Homo sapiens: one gene and its partners. The protein of the gene in region 1 interacts with the protein of each later gene in a biochemical or structural test. Each region holds a gene or a part of one and is shown on either strand. Other genes may lie near its edges.

Region 1 (7,019 bases):
TCCCGTCCTAGTAGGTCTGAGAAGAAGCCCTGCTTGGGCCATGGCTGCACCATACCCAAGAGGTGGCCCCCCCACTGCTCACAGGACCTGCCCACGGGTGAGGGACAGGGACACCAAGGCTTTGCATGGCCTCCTAGCTCTGCGCAGGGTGCCCTCTGACATCTGGGGTTGGGGGGTGAAGAACCTCACTACATCTAACAGAGGTGTGAGTAGAGGAAATCTCGCTGCATCCAAGGGTCTCTTTTACGACTAAAGATCAACTTCCAAGACACTAGAAACAAGTTATTGACGTCACGCATTACGACACTGTGTTGAAGTCTACGGCAAATACGCAACCTTGACTTCCATTCTGTCTTGGCCATGGAGCTTAGATGATAACATCCTGTGTTTGTTCCTCCAGTGGAGGCCAGATAGTTCTCATCCCAAACCATACACCCAGCCTTGGGGCCAGCTGGATTTCAAAACAACACCTCCGTGGATTCTAATGTGGCTGAAACAATGTGCTTTTCTGTCTCGATCAGCATAACCCCCATGTCCCGACCCCATCTGAAATGGAGTCCTCCCCACTTCCCGGCCCCATTCAGAGTGGAGTCTCTCCGACATCCCGTCCCTGCCCAGACTGGAGTCCCCAACATGTGTTGTCAACAAGTGGGTCACATGATGATGAGACAAATCCCACTTGGAAGTCACAAGAAAAGCTGAGGATTCCTTGCCTCCACTGCTCCCCCCGTACCGAGTTCATCATGAAGGCATTCATATCTTCAGCAGGAATCCGATTCACCAGCTCTGCACCTTCCAGCAGTGCAGAATCTGACCTGGTCCAACACTGGGATTTGACAAGATGAACGTACCAGTCCTGGGAAGAAAAAAATGGATAAGGGGAACATGATGGGCGGCGTTCAAGGGGACTTCACATCCCTGGAGCTACAGGCCTAGGCCAGTGCTTGGGAACACCGCACTAGGCTGAGAGGGCTGCCGGCCGGCAGGCTGTGGCTATACGGCTCACCACACCACAGGTTTTCCCCTTTGGACTTCTGTTACCTGCCTGGGCACCCTCACAGCCTCCCCCTTCACCTGGTGAACTTCCAATAGGCCTTCCAAATATAGCTAAACCACTAAGGGTTAGCGGCCCCTTTGCCATCCTCTCCTGGGTTGTCTGCTTTACTCATCTCTCCCCAGCAACCAGGGCAGGGCAGGTGCTTAGCGAATAGAGCCTAAGAAGGCAGGACTGAACCTTCGCTTTCTTATACTTGGGCTGCTGGTTTTTGAAATCTAAATTCATATTCATAAGCTGAACTTTGTCCAGGAAAGTAGAGTACCAAGGCTCTACCAAGGCTCTACCAAGGCTCCAGGTGGTCCCTAACCATGAGGTATGAGCAGTGGAGGTGCTGACAACATACCAGAATGGCTGGCAGTGGCAGTGCAACTCACAGGTGGCCAGAAGGTATGAGGAGATGGAGGGAGGCTAACGGCATTGACATGTGCTTGAAGGCCTGTGCAGTCAGGGGCCTGCAGGCCACGGCCGACTATTCCTTGATTCACCCACTAACTACTCACCCCACACTCCTACCAAAAGGGTCCCACATCAGCACTGCTTGGCTCCCTCAGACCTTGATGGCCCCCCACGTCTCTAACCACAGCTTCACTGAGCCGAGCCGAGCGCCAGAACTCCTTGGGTCCACGGCACCTCCTCTGCACTCTCTGTATCTGCCACAGGTGACAGAGGCACTCAGCGCCCTGTGCCTCCCATGCAGACACGCTGGACACTTACTTTGTCCGGACTCACTGTTTCCAGTGACACGTGCCCATCCCCGTCCAGCGGGTGGGAAGAGACTGGAGGAGAGGGACTAAGTGAGTCTTGCATGGTGGAGAGACGAAACCTGTCCAGCAGGGAATAGAGCCTTTGGTGTCTAAAATACAAATAAAAATGAAATTACAGTATAATTTGTTTTTTTTTTTTTTTAGTCTTAGTCTAAACTCTGCACACTAGGATTCTAGAAATATACACTCTAAGGAGATGCACTATTAGTGGCTTCTTAAAGGAAAATACACTTGTTTAAACCTTTTTCTTCACAGCTATCTTCTCATCAATACTCAAACAGGTCATGATACAAATGCAGGCCCTAGTTTACTTTTAAGTATCACAGTTTGTACTCCATTAATATTTTCCAGAAATTTCATTTATACTCAAACACTGCAACAGGCAATACACAGTATAAAAGCTAATAAAGGCTTTCTTAATAAATGTAAAACAGATCATCTAAGACTCAAATGCACAAATTCCACTATCAAATATCCCAGTAAGACAACTGATAGGAATTCATGGTCATTTCAAAATAAAATCACCTCATCTGGCACAAGATATTTATAATCTTTTAATCTCCCTCATCTGGACTGAAGACTAAGTCTAGGGTCAAAAAGTAATAATAGTTTATCTCCCGCCATCTGCTATGAGAGTGACAACTTCATAATGCAAATTACAAAAGAGCTTGGCCCTACAGACTGAAAAATCATCCCAAACTGTCCACCTAATTGTGCCCAATCCCATTTAAAAACACCATCAACAAGGTACTCTAAAGACTGAAAAGCATAATAGACAAGGTACTCTAAAGACTGAAAAGCATAATAATTTTTGTGTGTTTTTCCTTTTTTGCAGTTTCAGCTCAAAGTACACAGCATGATAATTATATTCTCCTTCTCTGCTGTCTCTCTCTCCCTCTCACACACACAATCCCTGCCCCCCACCCCGCCCCGCAAGGGAAGGAAAAAGGTAAAAGTTTAACTTATTCTGCAGTCATGGAAATACACTCACATAGGAGATGTAGGGATTTCTGACAAAGGCTTCTCAAAGACTTTGCAAACACAACTAAATGATTAAATGCTTTGAAGACATAAAATGGCAACAGGATGCAGATGTAAGTCCTGCATGCCAAGGATTGAGTAATGTCTCTCAGATTTGCCAACTCTTGTTTAGCAATTAGATGACATGCTTTGATTTTGCTAAGATAAACCTGATAACCTATTTTCCCACTCATCACAGGACAGTGAATACAGGCATTCTAAATGCTACCTCTCAAACAGCCACCAGGAGTGCAAACTGCCTCCACTCACGTCACAGACGTGATCCTGCCGGTCATCCTTTACTCTTTAGAAAGTGAGATCTGGTTGTTTTAAAAGTAGGAAGGTTCTATTATGGCACTTCTGCAGTAAACCCACCTATAAGGCACATCGATTTCTTGTCCTGTGAATTTATTCCCGTACAAATCTATATCCTTTATATCCTGGGTTGTCCTAACACAAGGACGACCTGTGTTTCCAGCATTACCTCTGAGCGAGCCCGCTGCTCTGAAGGTATTCCTGGATTCTGTTGAGTTCTTCCATTGGCAACTGGGCCATGCTGCTCTAATAGACAAAAACACATTAGTGTGTTTGTAACACCTAACAACCCAAAATAACCTCATGCTCATTTAAAAAGGATGAACTGATGTGTACAGTTCATCCTAGTAAGGGCAGACTAGAAAAAAATACAAGAAACAGTCAGATCGGACACACGAGTAACGGCAAGTTTGCAGATGTTTCCATGTTTCTATCGGTGACCATGTCAAGACCATACTTACGGAGGAAAAAGCCAGCCACCTGTTTTGCTTGGCCTGCTAAATTTTCAATATAAATCAATATCAGGGTTTCTCTTCCCAATACCTGTAAATTTGCAGCCAGAAGCATTTCTACCCGGCGACAAGCAAGGATGTCGACCATGCGAGCCAGCACACGGAAAGGGGTGCACAGAAGCCTGTCCACATACAGCGTGAGCACAGCTCCCGACTGGCTGAGATGGATCCCCTCCAAGCACTGAAGAGTTTTCTTCAGCATGGTTGGCTAACAGCAAGAAGGAAAAGAACAAAAGATGACTATTTTGCAAATCAGAAATTAAAGTTAAAAATTTCAATACTCCATTTTTAAGGCAGGGAAAACTGCAACTGGCAATAGTCGGCAGGATGAAGACGTACAGTTGAAAGGTTTTCACAACGAGACTGAATTGCCTGGATGAACAGGCCGCTGGCAGCAGAGTTCCGATGAACGGCACTGATGAAGTCCTGTACTGGAGGCTCGTGGGAAAGGCTGATCAGATCTTGAATGTGATTTACAATGAGCCACGTTAAGTGCTCGGAGTCATGGAGGTTCTGACACTAAGGAAAAATATGATGAGAGATTCATTTTCAAGTACACAAGAAGAGACCAGGTATTAATGCCATAGAAAGGCCAGAAAGGGTAAGAAGGAGAAAACACATCCCAAATATAAACCTCACTAAAAATATACAGTGTATGAGCACAAATAATTGAGGAGGTAGGAAACTCGATTTACCAAGGCCGTCACCTCCAACCACGCACTGCGGCAGAGGCTGTGTGAAGTTAGGCCCCCTGGGGAAGTAGGGTACAGCAGTCCAGCTCTCAGAGACACTAACAAATGGCCAAGGGTCAAAGGACAAAGGCAGGCCTCAGCGAGATCCGCAGGTAGCAGGGGCAGCGTTGCGCTGGGATGACCCCATCCACAGCACTGCCTGCCCTCTCCCGGGCTTCGGGCCGGCTAAGCCAGTGGGGTTCTCCAATTACTCTTTTTCCAATTTTGTGATAGTTCAGTGGGAAAAAAAGAATCCCCTATCACTGCCACAGTTTTGACAGAACTGTTGAATCCAAAATATGAATGGATCCCACATATCAAATAAATCTTAAGTGTAGATATTTAAGATTTATAAGAAAATAAAAATATATATTTTTAAACATGCAGAGCCTTTTCATCTTGATTCATAATCCTAGGCAGAAACTGTAAAATGTGATCAATTCCTTGATATTTGGTTAACGATTAATATTTTTCATTTGGGATCATCTGACAGTACAGGTTGAATAACCCTTATCTGAAATGTTTGGGATCAGAAGTATTCTGAATTTAGGATTTTTTTCAGGTTTTGAAATATGTGCATTATACTTATTTGTTGAGCTCCCTAAATCCGAAAATCTGAAACCTTCCAATGAACATTTCCTTTGAACATAATGTCAGCACTCAAAAAGCTTCAGAATTTGGAGCATTTTGGATTTCAGATTTTTGGATTTGGGATGATCAAACTTTATTAACTTATAAAATTAGTATCTTTTTTCTTATATTTCTGTGAAAAACAGCATTATAAATTATATTATCCTTAAAAGTAGAACAAAATAGAAAAACTACTTCAATAGAGAAAGTAAAGCAAAAAGTGACTATTAATAAATTGTCATCACCAGAAAAAGTCTCTAGGATAACACCTCTTTCAGTTGGAGAGTCGGCTTCCTTTTCTGATTCAGAATATTTAACACTGTTTTGCTATGTGACAGTAGTATCTATAAGATACCATGTTTGTGACAAAGAAATGCATATGTTTTAAATATTTTTAATATAAATATAGAAAAAGTATTAAATCTAGACCAAAATCTAACAGCAAGTTATCTCTGAGTAGTATGATTACAGGAGGTTTTATTTTCCTCCGTTTATTTGTTTTTTTGTAAATTCTCCATGGTAAATATGTGATGCTAGTTTTATGGTTAAAAACTCCCACAAGTTATTTTTTTTTCTTTAAAGAGAACGGCATTTAAACAGGAATCCATCATAAAATGTGACAAAGAACATCTAACACCTTTTCTACAAATTAACTTAAAAAAATTATTTTAGAGCAGGGGTCTCGCCTTGTCACCCAGGCCGGAGTGCAGTGACACAGTCACAGCTCACTGCAGCCTCAAACTTCTGGGCTCAAGCAATCCTCCCTTCTCAGTCTCTCAGGTGGCTGGGACCACAGGCATGCACCACCACGCCAGGCTAATTTTTCTTTCTTCCTCTCTTTCTTTTTTTGGTAGAGGCAGGGTTTCTCTGTGTTGCCAGGCTGGTCTCGAACTCCCAGGCTCAAGCCATCCTCCGCCCTCAGCTTCTCAAAGAGCTGTGATTACAGGCACGAGCCACCACACTTGGATAATTTTTTATTTTTTATTTTTTTAGAGATGGGTGTCTCACACCATAGCCCAGGCTTGTCTCAAACTCCTGGGCTCAAGTGATCTTCCTACCTCAGCCTCTCGAGTTGCTGGAATTTAGGCATAAGCCACTGCTCCTGGTATTAATTTTTAAAAAAATTTAAAATCAGAACCCCACTACAGTCAATGCACTTACTTTGTTTTTTAAATCATTAGTTATTATTATTCCATTGCTTCCCTCAAATTAACAAACATACCCAGCATCATGTAGGCGTGAGCCAATAGCCGGGCATTTGATAAATGAGTCAGCTGCAAAAACTCTCACAGTCCAACTTAGAATCCAGTGACTGGAAGGCCAGGCCTGGTCTCCAATTATATGTCACAGCAGAAGTAAACATTCATTCTAGATTTAGTTTCGATGGAGCTTGGCAGGACACCGGGCGGTCTGGGTTCCAGAGGGTCCATGCAAGTGTCATCTACACAGGATGTTCTCCTGGTCCCCACCTCCCTCAACCCCGTTTACAGGCATTTCAAACTTACGACATAATCACAGAAGAGAATGAGAGCCCCTCTTCGTACTATTTCTCTATTGCACATTCCAAGTTTGGCTGCCAAGTCAGAATCCTCCTCTTCTCCAGACATCTGGGGACTAAGTAACTTTGTGCTGGACAGACTGTGTCTTCTAGAAGGAGCAACAGATGCATTGACAATGTTTCTGGATGGCAGTGAGCTTATTTGCAAAATACTGAAGATGATTATGTTTAATTCTAGTTCTAAAACAGACAAGTTGTTTTAAATATTGCCATATCAGAATGTTGTATGTGTAATATATACTCTCAGTTATCTATTCCTAAGCTACAATAAACCACATATGAAAAACTAAAGAAAACAGAATTTAACAGGCAGAAAATTAAAATGCTTGCCTGAATAGCAAAATCCACCATAAAGCTGCACATTCAATCAGCACCTTTATTTCAGAACTCACACTGGCTATGTTTGATAATTGAGCAATTGCTTTTGAAATT
Region 2 (7,506 bases), on another chromosome or scaffold:
CCCCCATTCTCACCTCTTCTCTCAGCTGATGATTCTCCTCCTCCAGCAGCCTCAGCTTCTCCTGCAAGGCTTCCAGCTGTGGGCAGTGGTGCTGGTGCAGCAATGCCTCCTGCGAAATCCTAGGGGAGGGAGGAATGGGAGTCAGGGTGCAGGGAGTGGGGCTTCCCAGTTCCCAGCCCACCAGGGCTAAGGGCAGTGTTCTCAATTAGTTCCAGCAACCCTGCCAGCAAGCACATCACCTGTGTCCCTCTTAACAAATGAGGAAATTGAGGCTCAGAGAAAGGACTTGCAGGTGCAAAGGCAGGAACTCACAGCTTAGGGGCATCACAGGGATGAGCACACTGCAGGTCTTCCTCTGCTTCTTCTTCTTCCTGTTCCTCTTCTGCCTCCTTTTCTTCCTCCTCCTCTTCTTCATCCTCATCCTCCTCATCAGAATCTGAGTAGAGCTGGAGGAGCTCATCCCGCAAGTTCACCTGGTGTCTGAGGTATAAAATCTGGCAGGAAGAGAGAGGAGCCATGGGTTGGGAGTGGGCAGGGACAGGAGAGGGTCCTGGCATGAGGCAGGTGTAGATTGGCCCGCTATCCTCTCCTCCCCACCCGGTTACCTCCTCCTTGGCTGAGCCCAGCAGGGCTTCCAGCTTGCTGTTCTCCTCCATCAAAACACTGTTCTGTTTCACCAGGGACTGGCCGATGCGAGCTGCAGTGTTCAGGTCCCTCTCTCTCTGCAGGACCATCCCATAGGTAACGCTCTCCCAGACAGGTGGGAGAAGCTGGGGGGGACACAGGGGTCAGAGAGAGGCTAGGCCCCTAAGAGAACCTTCCCCATCCCCTAGTTCTCTAGGGTACCAGACCAGAGTCTGCCATTAACCCACTGTGGAACCTGGCTCAGTTTCCCCTCATGGAAAAAGAAGATCAGACCAGATTGGCTCTGAGAGCTCTTCCAGCCTGAACATCCCACATCGACCTGTCTTCCATAAGAAGGACCCTAACCTGGGGCCCCAGAGAGACTGCCAATCAGGAAATAAACAAGACCCCCACCCCTACAGGACAAAACTAGAATAAGGGCTTGCCTGGATCAGGAAGGCAGTACACACCTCCTCCAGCAAATATAACATCACTTTGACGTCTTCCTGGGTGATCTTTTTGACTGGCGGAGGTAGGTTAGGACACAGTGCTGCAGGAGGCGGCAGGTGGGGAGAAAAGGCCCAGCCAGGTCAGGAAAAAGGAGCAGATGCTACCAGCAAACAGCTGTTTCCCGTCCTATCGTCAGTTCTCCAACAAGGGTCATCGGGAGAGAAGACTGGGCTCCCCTCCTGCCCCCCACATCCTCCCCTTACCCCTCGGCACTCAACACTCCCTTCCCTGCTCCCAGGGCCAAGTGGACAGGGTTTTTAGGTTTTTGGGTTTTTTTTGGTTTTTTTTTTTTTTGGTTTTTTTTTTTTTTTAGACAAAGCCTTGCTCTTGTCCTCCAGGCTGGAGTGCGATGGCGAGATCTCAGCTCACTGCAACGTCTGCCTCCCAGATTCAAGCAATTCTCCTGCCTCAACCTCCCGAGTAGCTGGGGTTATACACGCCCGCCACCACGCCCAGCTTATTTTTGTATTTTTAGTAGAGACGGGGTTTCACCATGTTGGCCAGGCTGGTCTCGAACTCCTGACCTAGTGATCCGCCCGCCTCGGCCTGCCAAAGTGCTGGCTGGGATTACAGGCGTCAGCCACCGCGCCCGGCTTTTTTTTTTTTTTTTTTTTTTTTACCCCTGGAGGAGCCTGAGGTAAGGGGGTCACAGTCCTCCAGGCTCAGAAACTGGGCTCTCCGGACACCTGGGTCCCTGGCGCCTAGAATGGAGACAGCCAGGGGAAGTACAGCCTCAGACTGGCTCATCACCCCCTACCCAGGAGGCAGTGCAATGGAGTCTCCTGGGTCATACAAACAGACGCAGCCACTCACCCTGCACCTGTTGCGTGTGCAGAGGACAGGAGGAAGACTTCACCAGATTAGGAGACACTCGAGCCTCTAGGCCCAATCCAGAGATCTCCCCCGACCCGCAGGAGGATAGGAGAGACAAGGGGCAGGAAAAGAGCGCGACTTTGCCCCCATACCCGCAACCAAAAAGTGGGCAAAACTTCCCCCTCCGCCCGCCCACCCACCCCTCCATCGCACGCAAGCCCGGTCGGCCAGCGCAGACTCAGAGCGCGCGGGACAGCGCCCTCCCGCAGCCCCCCGCCCCTCTCCTGGCACTGCGGTAGACCCAGGAGAGGGGCGCTGAAGGGGTGCAGATCTGCCGCAGCAAGAGGCGCGTGGAGGTGGGTGGGCGAGCGTGCAGGCCCCAGAACCTGACTCACGGGCACAAACCAGGGGACAAGAGCAGAGGAGGAGATGGAGAAGGGGCGACCAGACAGACACCGCAGTGACATCGCGGGGGTGGTGGACGGGTGACACTGAGTGCTAGAGGGGGCGGGGTGCCTGGACCCGATGGGGCCACTTCCTCCCTGGAGTTGCCCCAGTCCCCACCCGGTCCAGGACCCCGGGGGCCCGATTTACCTTCCTCCAGCTCCCGAATAAAGGCGGCGCGCTCAGGGCCGGACACCCCGGGTCGCCGGCCAACGTAGGCGGCTGGCGTCTTCCAGATGCCCGCTGCCTTTCCAGTCCCCCGGCCAGTGGCCCGGGAACCAAACGGCCCTTGGAATACGAAGCGGGTCCACGGCGCGTCCGAATTGTCGGGCATAGACCGGACATCCCCTTGGATGGCCGAGAATGCGGACGGGCGCCGGGCTCCTGCCTTGGCTCCAGCCTCCGAGGCCGGGCGAGCTCCGGTGCGGGCTTCCGAGAGGAACTGGGATCCAGAGGTGGCTCGGGATCCTACTCTCTGTCCAGTGCCCCGTGCCTGCGGCTGCGCAGAGGGCTCCGGAGCGGGACTGGCTGAGGGCGAAGGTGCACAGGTGAGTGCTGCTGGGTCCCCGGGTCCGAGCCGGCTCCCCGCGCAGCACCGGCCCAACCTCTTCGGGCGCATCTCGAGTCTGCCGTCCGCTGCTGCGGCGGGACCTTTATAACCTGCGCCAGCCGCCGGGCCGGACCACGCGTAGGGGTGGGGGCTGCCGAGAAGCAACTAGTGGCAAGCGGGACTCAGAGCCGCGCGGGAGGGGAGCTAGTGGTGACGGAACAGAGCACAGTAAGAAAAGCAGGGCAAGAAGGGCGAGTGCAAGTTCCGGATGGCTCCGAGTTGGGATGGGAGCGAAAGATTTTTTCTGCCCTCTCCATCTCCGGAGAATGGTTCTGCCCAAAGCCGCGGCTGCCCCAGCACTCGCGGGTCCCTGGCTGGGGGCAGCCCCTCCCCAGCTGCCGCGCCGGGGTTTCGGGTGCCTTCCCTGGTGTAGAAGCTGCCAACCCAACGTTGTGCATACGGTCTGGGGTGGCCAGTGCATTAGGGCAGCGCTGCGTCTTTCCCGGTTGACTGGGAGAGACATTCCAAACTCCAGTGCGCTTCCAACGTGCTGCAACCCTGCCTGGCGCTGCAACCCTGCCTGGCGCTGCAACCCTGCCTGGCGCTGCAACCCTGCCTGGCGCTGCAACCCTGACCCTCGCGCTCACACCCCAGTGCTCGCGCCACTCGACGTCTTCCATTTGATTGGATTAACTGTTCTTCACCTCCAACCCTAGTTCGCTTTGCCCTCCTCTTGCCATGCTGGCGAACCCCTGTTCTCCTTGGGAGACGCCTCTTAAAAGTCTCCCTGTAGCCGGGCGCAGTGGCTCACGCCTGTAATCCCAGCACTTTGGGAGGCCGGGGCAGGCGAATCACCTGAGGTCAGGAGTTCCAGACAAGCCTGGCCACCTGGTGAAACCCTGTCTCTACTAAAAATACAAAAATTAGCCAAGCATGGTGGCGTGTGCCTGTAGTCCCAGCTACTCAAGAGGCTGAGGCAGGAGAATTGCTTGAACCTGGAAGGTAGAGGTTGCAGTGAACCGAAATTGTGCCAATGCACTCCAGCTGGGGCTACAGAGCGAGCCTACCCCTCAAAATAAATAAATAAATAGAATACTTTTTTTTTAAGTATCCTACTGGAAATGTTGGGTAGACAATTAGATGTATAAATCTGAATGTAGGGGAGAGACCGGGCTGGAGATTTAAATGTAGGAGTCATTGTTCTTTGATGACCATTTAAAGCTATGAGACTGGTGAGATCCCCAAGAGACTGAGAGAAGACAGGTAAGAGCGCCCAGGACTAACCCCCTAGGATTCAGAGGGCAGAAAGAAGAAGAGGAGGCATCAAAGGAAGACTGGGATGAGTGGGGCAGTGAAGTAGAGGAAAACCAGGAAAGTTGGGTCCTAGAAAGTAAAGAAAATGTTTCATGTAGAGAGTGGCCACCTGTGTTGGGTGGTGCTGTTGGGCCAGGCAAAGACTGAGGACAGAGACTCAGCTTGGCAAACTGGGGTCATGGGCAACCTTGGTGAGCTGGGGTCATGGCCTCGGCAAGAGCGGTCTTGCGGGGCCAGGCACAGTGGCTCACACCTGTAATCCTAGCACTCTGGGAAGCCAAGGCAGGTGGATCACCTGAGGTCAGGAGTTTGAGACCAACCCAGCCAACATAGTGAAACCCCATCTCTACTAAAATACAAAAATTAGCTCGGTGTGGTGGAACAAGCCTGTAAGCCCAGCTACTTGGAAGGCTGAGGCAGGGGAATTGCTTGAACCCAGGAGGCAGAAGTTTCAGTGAGCCGAGATTGCACCACTGCACTCCAGCCTGGGCAACAGAGCAAGACTTGTCTCAAAAAAAAAAAAAAAAAAAAAAAGAGCGGTCTTGGTAGAGGGGGTGAGAGAGACCAAAGAGGAGTGAGGAAATAACGAGAGGTAACAAAATGAAAACAGAAAGAAGGCTAGGCGCTGTGGCTCACACCTATAATCCCAGCACTTTGGGAGGCTTAGGAGGGTGAATTGCTTGAGCCCAGGAATTTGAGGCCAACCTGGGCAACATGGCAAAACCCTTTCGCTACAAAAAAATACAAGAATTGGCCGGGCGCAGTGACTCACACCTGTAATCCCAGCACTTTGGGAAGCCTAGGCGGGTGGATCGCCTGAGGTCAGGATTTTGATACCAGCCTGGCCAACATAGTGAAACCCCGTCTCTACTAAAAATACAAAAAATTAGTTGAGCATGGTGACGGGTGCCTGTAATCCCAGGTACTCAGGAGAATCGCTTGAACCCGGGAGGCGGAGGTTGCAGTGAGCCGAGATTGCGCCATTGCACTCCAACCTGGGCAACAAGAGCGAAACTCCGTCTCAAAAAAAAAAACATAGCTGGGCATGGTGGTGCATACCTGTACTACTTCAGGGGCTGAGGTGGGAGGATCACCTGAGCACAGGTCGAGGCTGCACTCCAGCCTGGGTGACAGAGCAAGACCCTGTCGGAAGGAAGGAAGGAAGGCGGGAGGGAGGGAGGGAGGGAGGAAGGAAGGAAGGAAGGAAGGAAGGAAGGAAGGAAGGAAGGAAGGGAGACAGTATAGAAAACTGTATTGAAGAAATCTGCAACAAAGGAGAGCTGGAAAAGGGCACAGGAGCTGAAGGAGGACATGAGTGCTGGGGAGTGTGTTTTGAAGATGGGAGAGAGGACAATATGTTTACATGCTGATGGAAATGTTCCCTCAGGGAGGAGAAAACAGGTGCAGAAAAGAGAGCTTATCTCCCAGAATACTTCTGGAAATGGAGGAACTTTCATAACATAACCGTTCTCCTCCTTGTTCAAAGTCTGCATGTTTTATTTTCTTTCTTTCTTTCTTTCTTTTTTTTTTCTTTTTTTGAGACGGAGTTTCGCTCTTGTTGCCCCAGGCTGGAGTGCAATGGCACGATCTCGGCTCACCACATCCTCCACCTCCCGTGTTCAAGCAATTCTCCTGCCTCTGCCTCAGCCTCCCCAATAACATGCGTCACCACATCCGGCTACTTTTGTCTTTTTAGTAGAGACGGGGTTTCTCCATGTTGGTTAGGCTGGTCTCGAACTCCCGACCTCACGTGATCCGCCTCCCCCTTGGTCTCCCAAAGTGCTGGGATTACAGGCGTGAGCCACTGTGCCCAGCCCAAAGTCTGCATGTTTCCTATGGTTTCTTTGTCAGCAGAAAGCTTGAAGGAGACACACAACCCCAGGGTTTGCTACGACAGTGAGGTTGAAGAACATAAGGAGGTGGCTGTTCGGGCATCGGCACAGCCCAGGCTTCCGTGAGGCTACAGCTCCATAGGCTCTGCCGAGTGGTCCTCCCACAGCCCAGCTTCCTGGACTGTCTCTCTGTGCCTTGGACATCTCTGCAGCCCCAACCACCAAGCACAGAACAGGGCATACAGAAGAAGCCTATTACACTCCTGCTGAATTAAATTGTTTCTGGCCCCATGAGGAAGAAGCCCTGGGAAACCCCTGGAGAGTTTGACGGGGAAGAAGGCAGAGGCAGTGGGATGGAGAAGACAGAGATGAAGTTAGGAGACCCTGAAAGCTCCCCCAGCTGACCACACCCTCTAGGTCAGCGCACTGGCAGCCAGCAACTCTGGCTACGGCCACCAGAGGGCAGTGTCAGCCCGTATACCTCCCCACGTGGCTTCCTCACCTACAGGCTCAGTCGCCCCACAGAAAGTGGAGTAGGGACAGAGACTCCATTTTACAAATGGAGAAACCAGGGCTCAGGGCCCGTCATTCTGGAAGTAAGCATTTTGGCCTGGCTGACAGATATCTGCCTTTCGACAGCCTAGGGCTGTCCAGGAGACTGGGGGTAGTCTCTGATCCAGGCCTCTCAAGTGGTTTTCCTCTGTCAACCACCCCCTCCCTCTCCTGCTTCTCATCTAGGGGGAGAAATCAGACACAGCAAAGACCCTTGGCCTCCTGTCCTCCCTCCCAGTGTGCATCCATGGACCCTCCTGGATCCGAAAGAGGATGGGAGGGTGCAGAAGACTTGCCAGGCTGCAAAGCCAGACCACCCACCACCTAATTGTGCACACCCCCTGAACCTGGGGCACATTCACTCCAGTGCCCAGCCCTGGGCAGCACACAGGTGGCTCAGGCCCCTCCTCCTGCCCCCTCCCCTGGCCTGACCCTGGGAAAAAAAACACCTGGAACAGGGTAGGTAATAGAAAGAGCCCCTAAGGGTCGGTGCCAGGGACCTGGGGGGGACAGGCACCGGGGTTACTTTCTGCAGGGGAGCAGGGTGGAGGGGCACCCTGAACTAGGAACAGGGGAGACCTCCTCACCCCCGCCGCAGTCCTGCTGTCTCCTGCAGGCCTTTCGGGGGCCCTCCCCCATCTCTGATCCAGGCCTTCCCCTCCAGAACCAGGCAGTGGCCGCCATAGCCCTCACCCCCACCCCAGAACCCAGGTACAGTCCCTCCTTACATCAGCAGAGAATGGGGGACTTGAGGGCCTAGGCCCTCAGAGGTTCCCCTTTAACTTTTCTTTTTGTTTTTTTGAGAGGGAGTCTCACTCTGTCGCCCAGGCTGGAGATCAGTGGCATGATCTCAGCTCACTGCAGCCT
Region 3 (7,880 bases), on another chromosome or scaffold:
TGGAGGGCCTGGAGGGCCTGTCCCCCTTGAACTAGCTGAGGCTGGATAAGAATTTGTTGCTGCTGTGTCTGCTGGTTTTGCTCTCCTTCTTTTTGCTGGCCTGCTTGCAATGAGCCTCCAGATGTCTGGTTTTGCTGGATGTTCAGAGCATCAGACCCCTGTAGCCCACTGACCCTCTGGGGTGTCTGGCCTTGAGAGTTGGTCCCTGATGATCCACTGGTAGTAAAGTTCATAATTCCCATGTTGCTGGTGGTAGTAGTAGTTGAGTAGCTATTGGCATTGGTGAAAAAGGAGCTGGAACTGGCTTGTGATGATACCAAGCTGGCAGAACTGATGGTAGTCCCTGAGGTGACAGGCTGTGAGCCACTCTCCTGGGACCCAGAGCTGCTGATCGTGACTGCCTGAGAGCTGGGAGTCAAGGTAGCTGCAGAAACGCTGTTGACAGGTAGCAAGGTGATGTTCCCATTCAGGGCCACTGGTACATTGGTCACATACTGAGTCTGTCCTGAGAGTACATTATTAGCCAGGCCTTGGAGGGGGACAGCCTGCTGGAGTAGGTTTGGCATAGCAGCAATGATGTTGCCTCCACTTCCTCGATTTGTGATAATCTGTTGGTTTGCACCTGGTATGATCTGTATTTGACCAGAACCATCCTGCTGCACTTGGGCCCCAGTGGCAGCAAACTGCAGCTGTTGCCCATCAACGGTCTGGAACTGTGGGATTACTTGATACTGAATATTAGGCATCACTCCAGGTAGTCCTGTCAGAACTTGCTGGTTCTGTAAGTTGGGAGCGGCAGCCACAACATACTGCCCACCAGAGACTGTGCGATTCTTGGAAGACTCACTGCCATTGCTGCCATTGGTACTGCTGCCACTCTGTTCCTTTGAGGTAGGGGTAGCCCCAGAGGAGGAAGAGATGATCTGCCAGCCATTGGCACCCTGTGAAAGTTGTGTGGCTGTGAGGTCAAGCTCACCTGTTCCCCCTGACTGACTCGGGCCCTGGGAGTTGTTGCTGTTCTCATTGGGTGACTCAATTCTGCTGCAAGTTGCTGCCAGCAGAGCCAAAGGGGATGGCTGGGACTCCTGGCCGAAAATAAGGGAGAGGAAAGGAGTTAGTGACACCCAGCTGCCAGCCTAGGGGGCAGTATACAACAAATAAACAGCAACGTAGTGCAGACAAGGAGCAAAAAACAGAAACAAAAAGCTGACCTATCTGTATTGCTGAAACTCCTTTGTCTTTGGGGATCTCCATTCTCTTACTTCCTTATCTATAAAATGGTTTAGTCTCTCCCTAAAACGCTTTCTGTGAAGAGTAAGGCAATTATCTAAGAATATTTACATCTTCTCAACACCTTCCCCACTCTATGATTATCACTTACCTGCCCTCCTCCTCCAGTGCTGCTGCTACTGCCTGTGCTGCTACTTCGAGCCTGTGAAAAGGCACCACCACCATTACCATTGCCCCCATTATTGCCACCAACTCCTTTTTCAATTTTCACCACAGCTGTCATTTCATCCATGGAGTGATCTTGGTCTAAAATAATTAAAAAACAAACAACGTAAACTTGAGGGAAGAAAAGAAATGAAGTAGGAAGGATAAAAGGAGGCTATGATGAAATAGCAATGACTAACAGGAAGGCGAAAGCCACCAGTATAAAGAAAATGGATTGGAGGGCAGAGGGGAGCTGCAGGGCATGCAGGACATGAACTAGGTTCAATGTGCCAAAAGTGGGCCTTAATTCTCCCTTGTACAAAATTAAACTAAGAAAACATTCAAAAAGTGCTTTGGGGATAGGAAATGTGAAGGACGGTAGGCATGGTGAGAGTTTCTAAATAAGAAAAAGTATCCTAAGGGAAAAAAAGGAAAAGGACAGGTAAGGCATAAAACAACATGTGGGTGCATGGAAAGCTTGCTAAAATTAAGTTTAAAAGAGATGGAGAGGCCAGGCGCGGTGGTCACGCCTGTAATCCCATTACTTTGGGAGGCGGAGGCAGGCAGATCACCTGGGGTCGGGAGTTTTGAGACCAGCCTGACCAACATGGAGAAACCCTGTCTCTACTAAAAATACAAAATTAGCCGGGTGTGGTGGCGCATGCCTGTAATTCCAGCTACTCCCGGAGGCTGAGGCAGGAGAATCGCCTGAATCCGGGAGGCAGAGGTTGCAGTGAGCCGAGATCGCACCATTGCATTCCAGTCTGGGTAACAAGAGCGAAAACTCCGTCTCAAAAAAAAAAAAAAAAAAAAAGACAAACAAAAATCCAAGTGTGAAAAGTAACGAGAGGGGAAAAAGAAGTAAAAAGTGTGAGTAGAAAAACATTTGTGAATACTGCTAAGGAACTAAAGGGATCTACAGGTTAGTAGTCAGAAGGTTTCGGGGCGGAGGGCGGGCCCTGAGGGAAAGGGCGGTTTCGGGGTGAGGGGCGTGGAAAGGGCGGGACGGTGGGGGGCGGGGGGGAAGGGAAATCTACGGAAAGTGGGGGGAGGAGGGCCTTGGAGCAGGCGGCGACCAGAGGGCGGACCAGGCAGGCGGTTGGCCCGGGCGGGGCCTTCGCTGCTCGGGCCGCCCCCGCGGCTCCAGCCCCCGGCGGGAGGAGCCTCAGGCGGGCGGCCGAGTAGTGGGGGGTAAGGCCCGTCCCCCGTGGCCGGGGCGGGCAGGGGGCGGGCGAGGCCACGCTGCCCCCTCCCCCGGGGCGGGCGGCCCATCCCCCTCCTCCTCGGAGGCCCCGCCACTGCCCCGTCTCCCTCCCTTCCCTCCGCCCCGGGCGGGACCTAGGCCGCCGCCGCCGCCGCCTCCCGCCCGCCCCCGCTTCACGGCGGGGATCGCCCGGTCGGCCCTCGCGCGCGCCCCCTCACTCGCCTCCCACCCCTAAGCTTGGAGTGGACTCATCCTTACCGCTCATGGTGGCAGCTGAGGGACAAGCTCAAGGGGGTCCTGTCCGGGGGGGTTGGGGGGGGCCGGGAAAAACGCGGACGCTGACGAGGCAAGCGAACCCGGACCGGACAGGGAGGGGGGGGTAAGGAGGAGGGAGCAGCGCGCCACAAGCCCAACCTAGGCCCCGCCCCTTCTCTGCTGCCCCGCCCAATGAGGGAGGGGGAAAGGAGGGACTTGCAGAAGAAAGACGGTGGAATTATCCAATGGCAAGACTCGCTTGCTCTCCAAGGCGTGTGAGACTAAGTTGCGTGCCTGGTGTCCGCCTAAAAAGACCGCCCTCTCAGTGTTAAAAGCCAATGAAGGATGCAGGAAGTGAAGATGGGCGGGAGCTGGAGATGATTGGCTTGGAAGGAAACCAGTCAACCGGCAGGCGGGCTCCCTGAGACGTAGGGATAGGCAAAGCTTTGATAGGAATGACAGAACAACGGCCAACCAGAATCCGGGATATGCTTGGGCAAAATCCTAGTGGGCGGAGAGGTAAGAAGTAGGCAGGAATAGGAGAGGATGAAGCTGATTAAAACCAATCAGAAATCAGGCGGGCAGCCAGGAACGTTATGATTGGAGTTAGACTGAAAAGAGACAGGAAAGGACGCATATTGACGTGAACTAAAAGCCAATTAAACGCCGAATTAACTGAGGGCGGAAACTTGGAGTGGCAGAGGAGAATTGGCGGCTCCCTCAGTTATTCAATCCAATGAGGGGACGAAGTAGGCCTGGCACCGCCTCCTAGTTAGCCAATGGGCGTTACTGGAGCTGCCCATCATGAGGGAGGGAAGAGGGCTATGCCAAGAGGAGACCGTCGCCATATTGGCCCTCCTCAGGGGACGTTGTTACAGTCATTAGGTGGGACGCTTTAGCGGAGTCCTGCAGCTCAACAGGTGTCAGAGCCAAGGCATTCGGCGCGCAGTTCCGCATCAACACTAGGACTTGTTTGCGTCTTCATTTAACTGCCCCTATAAAGTACCTCTCAAATCTTACCCCCCTCCCGGGTGGTCGGACAGGCGGGCAGATGCCTCAATGTCGCTGCAAGCCCTGGGAATGCAGGCGGGACGAGATCTGGTGACAGCACTCACCGAATAAGTTAATACTGAGCTGACCAATATGCAGAGTCTCCGTGAGACTCCAGAAAACGCGATTTTATTAAGTTCCCCCAGACAAAGGCGCTAACCACTTAAACGACTGGTTAACTTTTCAAGCCTTGAGGCTAAAGTGCGGATAAGTCACTTCCATTTTTTCCCCCTTAATAGTAAATACCGCCTATGCATAAAGCAAGATAGCTGAGCTCCAGCTTTTTGCAATCACGAAGGTTAAGAAACTTTACTGCAGGCACCTGGATTTCTGGCCTCCTCTTTATCCGTGTTTTGGTGGAGCCGGCCTTAATAGCTTGTCAATGACACGATGAGGTCATGTCCTTCAGTATTTGTATCTTATATGTTGTCACCTGCTTATATGTTCTTATGTTTTAAAATGTGAATTCTCCTAAACTATTTTAAGCCCTTTGAAGGTAAGAACTGAGGCCTCTGCTGCTTTAAACAGGTAAAAAGGTGAAGTGATTGCTGACTGCCTACCGTGTTAGGTGCCTAAGTCAGGGAGGCAGTTAGTATTCCATGTCATCCTTAAAAGGAAGATTTTATTAAGTATCAGCTATATTATGTATTTTATAAGTGAAGACATTTAGGCTGAGAAGTGACTTACCCAAGGTCACAAAGCAAATGAGTTGTAGTGTTAGATTCCAACCCAGAATAGTTCCACCAAAAGTTTTCTATAAATTCTTGAGGGAATTAAACTGCCGCCGGGCGCAATGGCTCAGACCTGTAATCCCAGCACTATGGGAGGCCGAGGCGGGCGGATCGCTTGAGCCCAGGAGTTAAAGACCAGCCTGGGCAACATGGTGAAACCCCGTCTCCACAAAAAATAACAAAAATTAGCCAGACGTGGTGATGTGCGCCAGTAGTCCCAGCTACTCGGGAGGCTGGGGTGGAAGAATCGCTTGAACCCAGGAGGTTGAGGCTGCAGTGAGCTCAAATCCTGCCACTGCACTCCAGCCAGGACAACAAAGCAAGACCTTGCTCCAAAATAAGTAAATATATAGACTGGGCGCGGTGGCTCATGCCTGTAATCCCAGCATTTTGGGAGGCCGAGGCAGGCGGATCACCTGAGGTCAGGAGTTCAAGACCAGCTTGACCAACATGGAGAAACCCCGTCTCTACTAAAAATATAAAACTAGCCAGGCATGGTGGGACATGTCTGTAATCCCAGCCACTTGGGAGGCTGAGGCAGGAGAATCGCTTGAATCCAGGAGGCAGAAGTTGTAGTGAGCCAAGATCGTGCCATTGCACTCGGGCCTGGGCAACGACAGTGAAACTCCATCTCAAAGAAAAAAAAAAAAGTAAATATATAGATGCTTTTTAATTTTTACTGTCTAGCTCCTGAAAAAAAAAAAAAAAAGCCTACTCCCAGGACGGATCAAATGGCATCATCCTCTTAGATACCTTTATTATAAAATTTATCAGAATACATGACAATTAATTTCATCTCTCACTGTATCAAGGTTTCTCAAAATGAAATGTCACACACTCTCAGAATCCTCTGGGTTCTTTTTTCAAAAAAGGCAGATTCCTAGATTTCCACCCTAAACCTATTTTTAAGTAGCTCTTTCAAGTGATTAGGCCCTAAACCTAGTTTAAAACACACCAAGAAGGCTGGGCGCAGTGGCTCATGCCTGTAATCCCAGCATTTTGGCAGGCAGAGGCGGGCAGATCACTGGAGGTCAGGAGTTCGAGACCAGCCTGACCAACATGGTGAAACCCCATCTCTACTAAAAATACAAAAATTAGTCGGGCGTGGTGGTGCATGCCTATAGTCCCAGCTACTCGGAAGGCTGAAGCAGGAAAATCGCTTGAACCTAGAGGCGGAGGTTGCAGTGACCGGGGATCATGCCACTGCACTCCAGCCTGGGCGACAGAGCAAGATTTGGTCTCAAAGAAAAGAAAAGAAAACAAAACAAAACAAAAACACCAAGAGAAGAAACTGGGGAAAAGAAACTTCCAGAAAGGGAGAAATTTCCTGGAAGGAAGAAACTGCATTACTCATCTTTGTAAACCAAGCTCTGAAGATTCTAATAGCTGTTTAGTCCATTCAGCAACTGTCCATACCTAAACTTGCTTAGGGGTGGAGGTAGGGAGAGGAAACTTAACACCGTGGAGGAGTATTCTAAACATTTCACATATTTATCTAATTTAATTATTCCTACCAATTTAAGAGATAGTTGTCCCCTTTTACAGATGAGAAAACTGAGGCTCAGATATTTTAGTTAAATTATGACTGTTCTGTTTAGTTCCAAAGCCTGTGTTTTTTCCATAGTCCTAGACTACACCCGAATTGGGAATTAGGATAAAATTAAACTGACAAAAAGACCTAAATTCAGAAATTCAATAGCCATCATCCTTTTTACAATCCTTTCCCCTTTGCTCCTCCAGAAGAAGACAATTCAGCATGAGGCCAGTGAGGAATGCCCTAGACGTATACTAGTTTATTGATAGTCCCTGAGAGCAAATGAATGACATGATCCATCTTGTCCAATTGCTCTGTAAAAACCTGAAAAAGTGTTCTTTAGACTGAAAAAAAAAAACAAAAACAAAAAAACCAACTTATATCAAGGCTATTCAGATCCCTTACATGCACACACGCAGTGTCTATCTTTTCTTTTTTTTTTTTGAGAGTCTCACTCTGTCTCCAAGCCTGGAGTGCAGTGGTGCGATCTCAGCTCACTGCAACCTCTGCCGCCCAGGTTCAAGTGATTCTCCTGCCTCAGCCTCCCAAGTAGCTAGGATTACAGGTGCACGCCACTATGCCTGGCTAATTTTTGTATCTTAGTAGAGATGAGATTTCATCATGTTGGCCAGGCTGATCTCAAACTCCTGACCTCAGGTGATCCTCTGCCCACCTCGGCCTCCCAAAGTGCTGGGATTACAGGTGTGAGCCACTGCGCCCGGCAATTTTTTTTTTTCCTGAGACGGAGTCTTGCCCTGTTTCCCAGGCTGGAGTGCAGTGGCGCGACTTTGGCTCACTGCAACCTCTGCCTTTCAGATTGAAGCAATTCTTTCTGCCTCAGCGTCCCTTGTAGCTGGGACTACAGACATGTGCCACCATGCCTGGCTAATTTTTGTATTTTTAGTAGAGACAGGGTTTCACCATGTTAGCCAGGCTGATCTTGAACTCCTGACCTGAGTTGATCTGCCCGCCTCAGCCTCCCAAAGTGCTGCGATTACAGGTGTGAGGCACTGCACCTGGCTACCTGGTTAACTTTTTGATGTTTTGTTGAGATCTCATTATGTGGCCCAGTTGGTGTTGAACTCCTGAGCTCAATCCCAAAGTGCTGGGATTACAAGCACGAGCCACCATGCCCTGCTTAAAATTCGTATCTTTTTTTTTTCTATACAGAGTCTCGCTCTATGGCCCACACTGGAGTGCAGTGGCGCGATCTCGGCTCACTGCAAGCTCTGCCTCCCGGGTTCACGCTATTCTCCTGCTTCAGCCTACTGAGTAGCTGGGACTACAGGCACCCATCACCACGCCTGGCTAATTTTTTGTATTTTTAGTAGAGACGGGGTTTCACCATGTTAGCCAGGATGGTCTCGATTTCTTGACCTCGTGATCCGCCCACCTCGGCCTCCCAAAGTGCTGGGATTACAGGCATGAGCCACCGGGCCCAACCATTTTTTTTTGTTGGGGGTACAGGGTCTCGCTCTGTTGCCAGGCTGGAGTGCAGTGGCGTGATCTTGGCTCACTGCAACCTCCGCCTCCTGGGCTCAAGCGATTCTCCTGCCTCAGCCTCCCAAGTAGCTGGGACTACAGGCGCACGCCACCACACCCAGCTAATTTTGGTATTTTTAGTAGAGACAGGTTTTCACCATGTTGGCCAGGATGGTCTTGATCTCTTGAC

Evidence for each region. Proteins that work in one complex are often made in the same cells at the same time.
Region 2: the proteins of HTT (region 1) and HAP1 form a complex in vitro, tested with the Homo sapiens proteins (4 studies listed by BioGRID).
Region 3: the proteins of HTT (region 1) and SP1 form a complex in vitro, tested with the Homo sapiens proteins (2 studies listed by BioGRID).

What each region holds. Positions count from the first base shown.
Region 1 is NC_000004.12:3,203,664-3,210,682, reverse strand, and holds part of HTT (huntingtin), read right to left. Parts: intron 6,677-7,019; coding exon 6,535-6,676; intron 4,188-6,534; coding exon 4,008-4,187; intron 3,877-4,007; coding exon 3,700-3,876; intron 3,403-3,699; coding exon 3,326-3,402; intron 1,911-3,325; coding exon 1,772-1,910; intron 857-1,771; coding exon 734-856; intron 1-733.
Region 2 is NC_000017.11:41,731,625-41,739,130, forward strand, and holds the start of HAP1 (huntingtin-associated protein 1), read right to left. Parts: upstream 3,020-7,506; 5' UTR 3,011-3,019; coding exon 2,542-3,010; intron 1,175-2,541; coding exon 1,095-1,174; coding exon of another isoform or gene 1,071-1,094; intron 771-1,070; coding exon 606-770; intron 495-605; coding exon 313-494; intron 120-312; coding exon 14-119; intron 1-13. UniProt on the Homo sapiens protein: Originally identified as neuronal protein that specifically associates with HTT/huntingtin and the binding is enhanced by an expanded polyglutamine repeat within HTT possibly affecting HAP1 interaction properties.
Region 3 is NC_000012.12:53,375,315-53,383,194, reverse strand, and holds the start of SP1 (transcription factor Sp1), read right to left. Parts: upstream 3,020-7,880; 5' UTR 2,904-3,019; coding exon 2,897-2,903; intron 2,552-2,896; exon of another isoform or gene 2,511-2,551; intron 1,537-2,510; coding exon 1,382-1,536; intron 1,086-1,381; coding exon 1-1,085. UniProt on the Homo sapiens protein: Transcription factor that can activate or repress transcription in response to physiological and pathological stimuli.